3 linked regions of the Homo sapiens genome follow. The protein of the gene in region 3 purifies or fractionates together with the protein of the main gene of each other region. This does not show direct contact. Each region holds a gene or a part of one and is shown on either strand. Other genes may lie near its edges.

Region 1 (3,651 bases), on a different chromosome or scaffold from region 3:
TTTTTTGAGACGGAGTCTCGCTCTGTTGACCAGGCTGGAGTGCAGCGGCATGATCTTGGCTCACTGCAACCTCCACCTCCCGGGTTCAAGTGATTCTCCTGCATCAGCCTCCTGAGAAGCTGGGACTACAGGCACACGCCACCACACCTGGCTAATTTTTGTAATTTTAGTAGAGACGGGGTTTCACCATATTGGTCAAGCTAGTCTCGAACTCCTGACCTCAGGTCATCCACCCACTTCGGCCTCCCAAAGTGCTGGGATTACAGGCATGAGCCACTGCACCTGGCAATATTTTTTTAACTTATTTTAATGGGATTAGGGAGGGACAGGAGGTTATTTTTAGAGTTGATCTGCTGTTTAATCTGAAATCTTTCTCTAAGATGGTGTCCATTTGGTTCCCACAGTAAAGATGACAATGAGTTAATGGTCCACCAGAACAAGGAATTTTGTATCTATGGTTGTAATTTTAGTTTGTTTTTGTTTGTCAGCAGAAGCTGCCATGGGGACTATATTGACTGATAAAAATCTCAGTTTTTTCATGTGCGTGCATATATATATATTTATTTATTTATTTATTTTTGAGACAAGGTGTCTGTCACCTAGGCTGGAGTGCCGTGCCATGATCACAGCTCACTGTAGTCTCGACTAACTGGACTCAAGCAGGCGTCCCACTTCAGCCTCCCAAGTAACTGGGACTACAAGTGCATGCCACCAAGCCCAGCTAATTTCTGTATGTTTTGTAGAGACAGGGTTTTGCCATCCATGTTGCCCAGGCTAGTCTCGAACTCCAGAGCTCAATCAAACCATCTGCCTCGGCCTCCCGAAGTGGTGGGATTATAGGAGTGAGCCACTGCTCCTGGCCTCGTAGATTTTTATCTTCAGAATTCTCATCCTTCTCTTCACACAGTCCAATAATAATTGATAGTGATGTGGAAAGAACTCAAGATTTAGACTCAGAACGCTTGAGGTGGCATCCTGGTTCCTCTGCTTGCTTGCTTTTTTTTTTTTTTGTCTCGCCCTGTCACCCAGGCTGGAGTGCAGTGGTTCAGTCTCGGCTCACTGCAACCTCTGCTGCCCCGGCTTCAGCGATTCTCCTGCCTCAACCTCCAGAGTAGCTGGGATTACAGATGCCTGCCACCATGCCCAGCTAATTTTGTATTTTTAGTAGAGGCAGGGTTTTACCATGTTGGTCAGGCTGGTCTCAAATTCCTGACTTCAGTTGATCCACCTGCCTTGGCCTTCCAAAGTGCTGGGATTATAGGCATGAGCCACTGTGCCTGGCCCTTAGAGACTGGGTTTCACCATGTTGGTCAGGCTGGTCTCAAACTCCTGACCTCAAATGATCTGCCCACCTCAGCCTCCCAAAGTTCTGGGATTATAGGTGTGAGCCACCATGCCTGGCCTCTATTTATTTGTTATTATTTTTTTAATTATTGGTTTTTTGTTTTGAGACAGAGTCTCGCTCTGTCGCCAGGCTGGAGTACAGTGTCACGATCTTAGCTCACTGCAACCTCCGCCTCCCAGGTTCAGGTAATTCTCCTGCCCCAGCCTCCCAAGTAGCTGGGACTACAGGCACGTGCCACCACGCCCAGCTAATTTTTGTATTTTTAGTAGAGACAGGGTTTCACCATGTTGGCCAGGATGGTCTCAATCTCTTGACCTCGTGATTCACCTGCCTCAGCCTCCCAAAGTGCTGGGGTTACAGGCGTGAGCCACCACGCCCGGCCTATTTATTTTTAAATACAGATGGGGCTCTTGCAATATTGTTGGGCTGGTCTCGAACTTCTGACCTCAAGTGATCCTCCCAACTCGGCTTCCCAAAGTGCTGAGATTACAGGCATGAGCCATTGTACCTGGCCTTCTGCTTTCTACTTACATGGCCATGAACAAATTAGTCTCTCTGAGTCTGTGAAATCCTCTATGGAATGAATAAAATCCATGTCCCATTTTCTTCACAGGATTATTGTAAGGACTAAGTGAGATAATGGAAACAAAAGTGCTTTTAAGATACTGTGAGTGAGGAATTGAAATGATTCACTTTTATTTTCCCACTAATAAATAAAGATATGGAGGGTAGGGATTGGGATAGTTGATCACTGCTGGGTAGAAAGTATATGCTCAGAAAGGTGTGAGTTGCACTCAACCTGGGTAACATTTCTTTTGTCCTTCTCATTCCTCTTCCCCACCTTAGCCCAAATGCTGATTCCAGCCTTCTACTAGAATGCCTGACTAAATATGCAATCCAAGCTGAAAGCAGTTGTCCCAGCAACAGGAGCCTACCCTGCCAATGTCGTGCTGACTCTTCCCACTTTACCTTCCCCAGATGCTGCTGCAGATTGCTGATGATTTTATCGAGAGTGTGGTGACAGCAGCCTGTCAGCTTGCGCGGCATCGCAAGTCTAGCACCCTGGAGGTGAAAGATGTCCAGCTGCATTTAGGTATGTGGTCTTGTTTCTCCCTGAAGTATGGATTCAACTGCTTCTTCAGGACTGCCAGGGAAAGTGTAGTCAGAGGAACCTTCATGCCAGAACCAGACTTTTGGGCACTGGGATTTATGTATTAATTCAATAACAGCACCAAATAGAAAAGAGAAATCCATCTGTGGTAGGGAGAATGAGCCCAGGCATGGGTTTGAAACCAGATTCTGCCACTTTCTAGTTGTATCAGCCTATTTTTCCTACCTAGTATCTCTTAGAGTCTGTTTCCTCATTTGTAAAGTGAGGATCATAATATCCTCCTTACAGAATAATCGTGAGAATTATAGACCATGTCTGTAAAGTGACTGGCACAGGGCCTGCACAAAGTAGGATCTAGTCAATGTAGGTACTGTTATGTCTTCACCATGCAAATAAAACTGTTCCTCAGTGTTCCCTTAGAGTTTTAGCCTATTTATGCATTTTTTCCAAAGTTTATAATCGTAATATACATACAATTTTATAGTCTCCTTTTCTACTTAACAGACACTAAATTTGAGTTTGAGTTTTTCTGGGAGATACTCAGCTAACAGTGATGACCATAATCACTTGGAAATGAATAAGCAGCCCTCTGCATTGGATACGATGTGATTAAAAGAAAGAGATCAGTCTATAACTATGTGTTATATATATGTATATATATGTATATATTTATGTGTGTATATATATTTATATATAATTTATATATATTTATATATAATTTTTATATATATTTGTATATACTTTATGTATAATACTTTATATATATAAATATATATATATATATTTTTTTGATCGAGTCTCACTGTCACCCAGGTTAGAGTGCAGTGATGCCATCTCAGCAACCTCTACCTCCTGGGTTCAAGCGATTCTCCTGCCTCAGCCTCCTAAGTAGCTGGGACTACAGGCCTGCACCACCACACCTGGCTAATTTTTGTATTTTCAGTAGAGATAGGGTTTCATCATGTTGGTCAGCCTGGTCTTGTACTCCTGGCCTCTGTTGATCCACCTGCCTTGGCCTCCCAAAGTGCTGGGATTACAGTCATGAGCCACCATGCCCAGCCCAGTCTATAACTATAGAGACAGGCCAAATGAATGAGATTCGGTGCAGATCAGCCCATGACTAATTATTGAAAGACTTTCTTCACAGTGTCAAGAAGCTGTTGCCTTGGGGAGGCATTGGTAGTCTAGGTAAAGT
Region 2 (3,651 bases), on a different chromosome or scaffold from region 3:
TCAGAGCTGTGCTGCCACTGCTGAAGCAGCCTCCCCCGCATGGTGGGAAGGCCCTGCCCCGAGCCCTTCCTTCTGGCCGCAGACACTGCAGAATGAGATTCTGGGCCATACGCCGCGGGTTGAGGATGTGCTGCAGAGAGGGCAGCAGCTGGTGGAGGCGGCGGAGATCGACTGCCAGGACCTTGAGGAGCGCCTGGGGCACCTGCAGAGCTCCTGGGACAGGCTGCGGGAGGCAGCGGCCGGGAGGCTGCAGCGACTGAGGGACGCCAACGAGGCACAGCAGTACTACCTGGATGCAGACGAGGCTGAGGCCTGGATTGGCGAGCAGGAGCTCTACGTCATCTCCGATGAGATCCCCAAGGTCTGTTCGGGCAGGGGATACCAGCCAGGGTGCCCAGGCAGAGAGGAAGAGTTGAGGTTGGCTGTCGGTAGGGAGCCTTGTGAGTCCAACTGTGTGAGGAGTGAGGCCAGGGGAGGGGCACAAGGAACCCACAGACTCCCTGCCCTCCCTTGGTGCCTCCTTGAACACACCCCTGCAGGGCACACACTGAAGCCAGGTGCCTCCTGTTTACCCACTTAGGTTTGCTCTAACCCAAGGGTTCTCTACTTTTCTTTACCCTGGATTCTGTACGCTATGAAAGAGATGGGGTGAGAGGTGACAGGTGGGGGTCTCTCAAAGCTGGAATGATATAGGATGTTTTCATGGGGACAGGGGTTAGAGCACAAAAGGAAGGGTATATGTCGGATACGAATCAGGGGAGTCCAGAGAGGAAGGTAGGGCACGGGCATTGCTGGGAAATCAGAAGGGCAGGAAGGAAGCATGTGTGGCTCTCCTGCGGGTGTCCCACAAGCCTACTCCCCTCCTCCCTCGGGCACCTCCAGGAGTGGGGGCACAACTTGCCAAGGGAGGGATCATGGCCAGACTGAGCTCTGGCGCTGACCGTCTGCTGCCTCCTAGGATGAAGAGGGCGCCATTGTGATGCTGAAGCGACATTTGCGGCAGCAGCGTGCGGTGGAGGACTACGGCCGGAACATCAAGCAGCTGGCCAGCCGGGCCCAGGGCCTGCTGTCTGCAGGCCACCCTGAGGGGTGCGTGCGCCCCCTGTGGTGACTCGGTCAGGAGATGGGGATTGAGCCAGGGGCCCACCAGCCAACGTCCCTTCAGATTTAAAAGGAAAATGGAAAGAGTTTTCCCATCAAATAGGGCTGGAGAAAATTGCTGCGGGACTGGTGATGGATCCAATTTCATTTTATGCCTTGGTTTTGTGTGAATCACTTCCAGCTGGGCCATCGAGGCCCTGGTTTTCGAAATGATCAGAGAAGGGGTTAGCAAAACTACCCTCTTGGTGACCTGAGAGCACCAATTTTCCGAAGGGTTACAATATGCTAAGGGACACTGAAGACTACTTTAGCTTTTATTTTTATGGTCCAGAAGGTCTCCAGGACTTCACAGTCCAGACAGAACCATGATGTAGGAGTGCAGGTGGAAACCTGTGCCCACATGGGCTGCGAGGTTTTGTGGATCCTGCATAAATGGAAGCCCACTGGGCCACAGACCACACACTGCCCCCAGCCATGGCCCTGTCCTCAGCTGCCATTAGGGTGCCCACCACTGTGGGTCCTCAGCAGCCACCCCAGAGGTTTCCCTGGGAGCCACATTGTCTGGGCCCCTAGTATGTCTTTTCCCTCCCTGGAGGGCTGAGCAGAGCTGTTGCTGCGGGAGCCCCACTCAGGTAGTGCTGCTCCCCCAGCCTCTCTGGAAGAACAATGGAGGCGTTCCCCATTTGCACTTGTCCCTGTAAGCTTGCCAGAGTGAGGGGCACCATGGGAAGCACCCCTCCAGGACAGAATTCCAGGACACAGTGTGTCATCCCCTGAGGCTAGGGTGTGGCCCCTTCTCTCCCCAGCTCTTCCCCGGCAAAGCCCCTGTCATTTCTCCAGAGCTTCACTCCCTACCTATCCCTGCCAGGGGGCTGTGGTTGGCATATGTTGGCTCCCTGGAGCCACGGCTCTGGGTTCGTGGCTGCCGTCTCTGAGGGCCTTTTTGGTTTTGAATTCCAGGGAACAGATCATCAGACTTCAGGGGCAAGTGGACAAGCACTACGCAGGGCTGAAGGACGTGGCGGAAGAGCGCAAGCGCAAGCTGGAGAACATGTACCACCTGTTCCAGCTCAAGCGGGAGACCGACGACCTGGAGCAGTGGATTTCAGAAAAGGAGCTAGTGGCCTCTTCCCCGGAAATGGGGCAAGACTTTGACCACGTGACTGTGAGTAGCCACAACTCCTGCTGTTTTTGTCTTTCTCTAATGCGGTAGACGCAGCCAGCCGTCACTCAAGACACACAGAGTGCTGCATAGGACGTAACCTCCCCAGTGTGAGGCGGGACCAGCCGATGCAGGCCTGCCCTGGGGAAGGTGTGACAGCGCAGCTCCCGGAGCTGCAGTTGCTGCCTGGGAAAGTCTTTGGCTAAGCTGGTGACACCTGTAACCCCTGTGCCCCCCATAACCACATTTCTGTCTGCCCCATGCCTAGCTTCTGCGGGACAAGTTCCGGGACTTTGCCCGGGAGACCGGGGCGATTGGGCAGGAGCGGGTGGACAATGTGAATGCCTTCATCGAGCGACTCATCGACGCGGGCCACAGCGAGGCGGCCACCATCGCCGAGTGGAAGGACGGGCTGAACGAGATGTGGGCAGACCTCCTGGAGCTCATTGACACGCGCATGCAGCTGCTGGCCGCCTCCTATGACCTGCACCGCTACTTCTACACGGGTGCCGAGATCCTGGGCCTCATCGACGAGAAGCACCGCGAGCTGCCCGAGGACGTGGGGCTGGACGCCAGCACGGCCGAGTCCTTCCACCGGGTGCACACAGCCTTCGAGCGGGAGCTCCACCTGCTGGGTGTCCAGGTACCTTCAGCCCCCTGCCGCCCACCTGCTACCAATTTCCAGGAGCCCTGGGTGTCAGTCCCCACCTGGCTGTCAGCAGGAAAACCTCTAGGATAAGTGCCAGGAGGTTTTGCCTCCTTAGACAGCCAGGAGCTCAGGGCTGGGAGCAGTGGCTTTCAGATGTTCCTTAGCTTCAGAAGTCATTCTTTAAACTGAATCCTCACAAAAGGCCAATGCATACAATACTATACGGTTGCAGTTTCTCCAGTTGTGCAGTACTATTAGTGGACACACGCACAGCACTTTTCTAGCACCAGGTGCTCTTCTGAGCAATGTATGTAGCCGCTGGACCCTCATGGCAGTCCTCTGAGGCAGCTACTAATATTCCCTGCACTTTGTAGATGAGAAAAGGGAGAGGTAGAAGACCCATAAGTTTCCCAGGAACATGTAGGTACGAAGTGGAGCCAGGGCTCAGACCCTGGCAGTCTAGCTATAGACCCCACATACTTAGCCACCGGGCACTTCAGCCTTTCCACATGGGAGCTGGAGAGCCCCCAAGTTCTACTGTTCAGACCCCTGCCCCATCACTGGAGTGCCCTCCGCAGATCCGTAGGGTGCCCCAGAGCTTGGTGTGATAGAAAGGGCAAATGCAAGGGGGCCCCTGTTGCTGAGGGCTCCCCCAGCTTCCAGTGCAGCAGGGAGAGGTAGGCTGGCTGCGCAATCCCAGGCCAGCCCTGCAGGGCTTGGGGACAGAACACCAGGGTTG
Region 3 (3,651 bases):
CCACATTTAGGTCTTGTCTTGGGAGGTGGGGCACATATAGAGGTCCTCTTCCATATGGGTGTCAAGGAACTAATCAGATTCTCAGTTGCTCATAAAGTATTTCAGTCCCAAATAGTACACCCCACTTGATTTTCAGGATGGTTTGTTTTTCTTAAAAAAGTATTCTTTTAGTTTTAATCTGAACCTGGGGAAAAGCTTCAGGTTGGTTTTCGAGATGCTATTATGTTTTAAAATCAGCTGTTACCTCAACACAGTACTCCTGACAAAAAATCAGTAAGTAAAATCAGCTGTTTTTTTGTTTTTGTTTGTTTGTTTGTTTGTTTTTGAGAGGGAGTCTCCCTGTGTCGCCCAGGCTGGAGTGAGGTGGTGCGATCTGGGCTCACTGCAAGCTCTGCCTCCCAGGTTCACACCATTCTCCTGCCTCAGCCTCCTGAGTAGCTGGGACTACAGGCGCCTGCCACCACGCCCAGCCAATTTTTTTTTTTTTTTTTTTTTTGTATTTTTAGTAGAGACGGGGTTTCACCGTGTTAGCCAGGATGGTCTCGATCTCCTGACCTCGTGATCCGCCCGCCTCGGCCTCCCAAAGTGCTGGGATTACAGGTGTGAGCCACCGCACCAGGACTAAAATCAGCTGTTAAAAAGGGGCTACTGTTTTTAGCCAGGGAGCAGTGTGAATTGGGAGTGTGTGGCTTTTTGGATCTTCTCATGTAATACTTAAAAAAATACTGGGCAGTCCTTGGGTGTTCTATAGTAAGGTTCTTGGGGCCCAGCCAGGGAGGAGCTAGATAGTTTCTGGCTACTGGAGTATACCTTATGGGGCAGGGGCAGGGGCAGAGGTAGGCAGGGAATGAGGTGAGCCTTTATTTTTAATTTATTTTTTAGATAGAGGCTCACTTTGTCACCCAGGCTGGAGTGCAGTGGCACGATCTCAGCTCACTGCAACCTCTGCCTCCCAGGCTCAAGTGATTCTAGCGCCACAGCCTCCCCAGTAGCTGGGATTACAGCCGGGTGCCACCATACCCAGCTAATTTTTGTATTTTTAGTAGAGAAAGGGTTTTGCCATGTTGTCCAGGCTGGTCTTGAACTCCTGGCCTCAAGTGATCTGCCCAGCTTCCCAAAGTGCTAGGATTACAGGCGTGAGCCACTGCACCTGGCCGAGCCTTTATTTTTTAACTGCTTGTGATAGATTCTTTCCTTTTTGTTTCTAAGAGGTTTTCTGATTTTCCTTTTTTTTTTTTTTTGAGATGGAGTTTTGCTCTTGTTGCCCAGGCTGGAGTGCAATGGTTCAGCTCACTGCAACCTCTGCCTCGCGAGTTTAAGCGATCCCTTGCCTCAGCGTCCCAAGAAGCTGGGATTACAGGCGCCTGCCACCACGCGCGGCTATTTTTTGTATTTTTTAGTAGAGATGAGGTTTCACCATGTTGGCCAAGTTGTTCTCGAACTCCTGACCTCAGGTGATCCACCCACCTCAGCTTCCCAAAGTGCTGGGATTACATGCGTTAGCCACTGTGCCCAGCAAGGTTTTCTGATTTTTTATATCAGTTCTCCATTATACTTCTCTGTCTTATATGTTTTCTGAAAGGTATCTGAACTCTTTCCAGTCATGTTGGGTATTAGAGATCAGAACACCTAATGACATTGGGCTGCAGACCCCAGTAGGAGACTAAGGAGGTTTGGCACGTCCCAAACATTATCTATAGACCAGTGTGAAGTGTGTGTGTGTGTGTGTGTGTGTGTGTGTGTGTGTGTGTGTTAGGAAGGGTCTTTCTGAAACATCCTAAAGGGGTCTTATACCTAAAAAATGTACAGAGCCCCTGCCCTGGGATGTTCATTCTTGACACTGTCATTGCACAGTGTGAGTCTACAGAGAAGAGTCCTCAGGCATGAAATTATCTTCTTGAAACCAGTGCCGCCATCTTACTAATCATTAGCAGTTAGCTATGTGGAAGAAGCCTATATAGAGGCCATACTTCTATAGCATTTTTGAATTGTGTGTTGCAACTTCCTTCAAATAAAACTTATGTTTTTCTAAGTAGCCAGGTTTAACTTTAGTCTGTTGATGCCACTCTAAGTGAAATTCAGCTGATCCTGAAAAGTGAGATACTTAGAGGGTGCATAGAGTTTTGCCAGTTTTGTTTTCAGACAGGGGTCTCTCTCTGTGGCTCAGGCTGGAGTGCAGTGGCTTGCTCACGGCTACCCGCAGCCTTGACCTGCCAGGCTCAAGTGATCCTTGCACCTTAGCCTCCCCAGTAGCTGGGACTACAGGTGTGTACCACCATGCTTGGCTAATTTTTGTAGAGACTGGGTTTTGCTATGTTCCCCAGGCTGGTCTCAAATGATCCACCTGCCTCAGCCTCCCAAAGTGCTGGTGTGAGTCACTGTGCCTGGTGAATCTTTAAGACTCTTCCAGATAAGCCCATTCTGAGAACGAGTCATCTGATCTATGTACCATGACAAATTTGTGTGGTATTGAAGGCTGTCCCCTCTCCATTGAATGCCACTGGAAAGAGAGCCATGAGGACTTTGCAGCAGTTTCATCCTTTGCCTGCAGTTTTTGCACACATGACAGAGGATGCTGAAAAACATTAGGCAACATTGCCAGCCCATAGACAAAATACTCCTGATGTCCAGCCATACACCTGAAAACGTCTGTTGTTGTTCTGCCCAGAATTGATGCTTTAGCTAAAAAATTAGAGTTTAGTTGGGTTTTAAAGCTAGCTACCAAGTGGAAGTAAATTGCCTGGCATTGTTGGTATCTCAAGACAGACAGTGATGATGATTTGGAGACATAAGCTCTTTAAGATTTTAAAAATACTTTATGGCTATTCTGCAGCTTTGAGGCAAGTAGATCTCTGCAATCTGTCCAGCTCTTTTTTTAAGTCTGAGAAAAGAAATGAGCATTGGTTTCTGACAGGTGGAATTTGTTGGACAGTTGCAGTATATGATTTTTTTTCTTTTGAAAGGGGATTCAAACACACATACATTGAGTAAACAATCTTGATTATCTAACTGCCATCCTAGGCTACTGCTGGCAGCCTTTGTGGTTGCTCACCTTACCAATTAATGAGCGATAATTAACAAAGAGCAGCAGCTGACTCAGGAAAGATGTCATTGCTATGACTGTCAGAATTAATATTTCCAAGGTAATGTTTTAAGGAGAAAGGAGTGATTGACTAGGAAGCTATCATTATTGACTCAAAGAAAGAAGCTGTCAACCTAATTTACGTGGTCCATTTTTTTCTGAGAACATTTTTATCCCAAGAGGGAAAATGGCAGTATGAAAAGTGACTATGAAGGCTGGGCGTGGTGGCTCATGCCTGTAATCCTAACACTTTGGGAGGCCGAGGCAGGCAGGTCACGAGGTCAGGAGTTTGAGACCAGTCTGACCAACATGGTGAAACCCCGTCTCTGCTAAAAATACAAAAATTAGCTGGGCATGGTGGCACGTGCCTGTAATCCCAGCTACTCAAGAGGCTGAGGCAGGAGAATCACTTGAACCCGGGAGGTGGAGGTTGCAGTGAGCCGAGATCGTGTCATTGCACTCCAGCCTGGGCGACAGAGTGAGACTCTGTCTCAAAAAATAATAATTAAAAAAAAGAAAAATGGGCTGGGCGCGGTGGCTCACGCCTGTAATCCCAGCACTTTGGGAGG

What was found.
Region 1: the proteins of CDKN2AIPNL (region 3) and TAF12 purify together in Homo sapiens (affinity purification with mass spectrometry; one large-scale study listed by BioGRID and IntAct). This does not show direct contact.
Region 2: the proteins of CDKN2AIPNL (region 3) and SPTB purify together in Homo sapiens (affinity purification with mass spectrometry; one large-scale study listed by BioGRID and IntAct). This does not show direct contact.

Annotation. Positions count from the first base shown.
Region 1 is NC_000001.11:28,612,034-28,615,684, reverse strand, and holds part of TAF12 (transcription initiation factor TFIID subunit 12), read left to right. Parts: intron 1-2,323; coding exon 2,324-2,438; intron 2,439-3,651. UniProt on the Homo sapiens protein: The TFIID basal transcription factor complex plays a major role in the initiation of RNA polymerase II (Pol II)-dependent transcription.
Region 2 is NC_000014.9:64,771,835-64,775,485, reverse strand, and holds part of SPTB (spectrin beta chain, erythrocytic), read left to right. Parts: exon of another isoform or gene 1-67; intron 68-82; coding exon 83-361; intron 362-958; coding exon 959-1,089; intron 1,090-2,061; coding exon 2,062-2,266; intron 2,267-2,531; coding exon 2,532-2,906; intron 2,907-3,651.
Region 3 is NC_000005.10:134,405,359-134,409,009, reverse strand, and holds part of CDKN2AIPNL (CDKN2AIP N-terminal-like protein), read left to right. Parts: intron 1-3,651.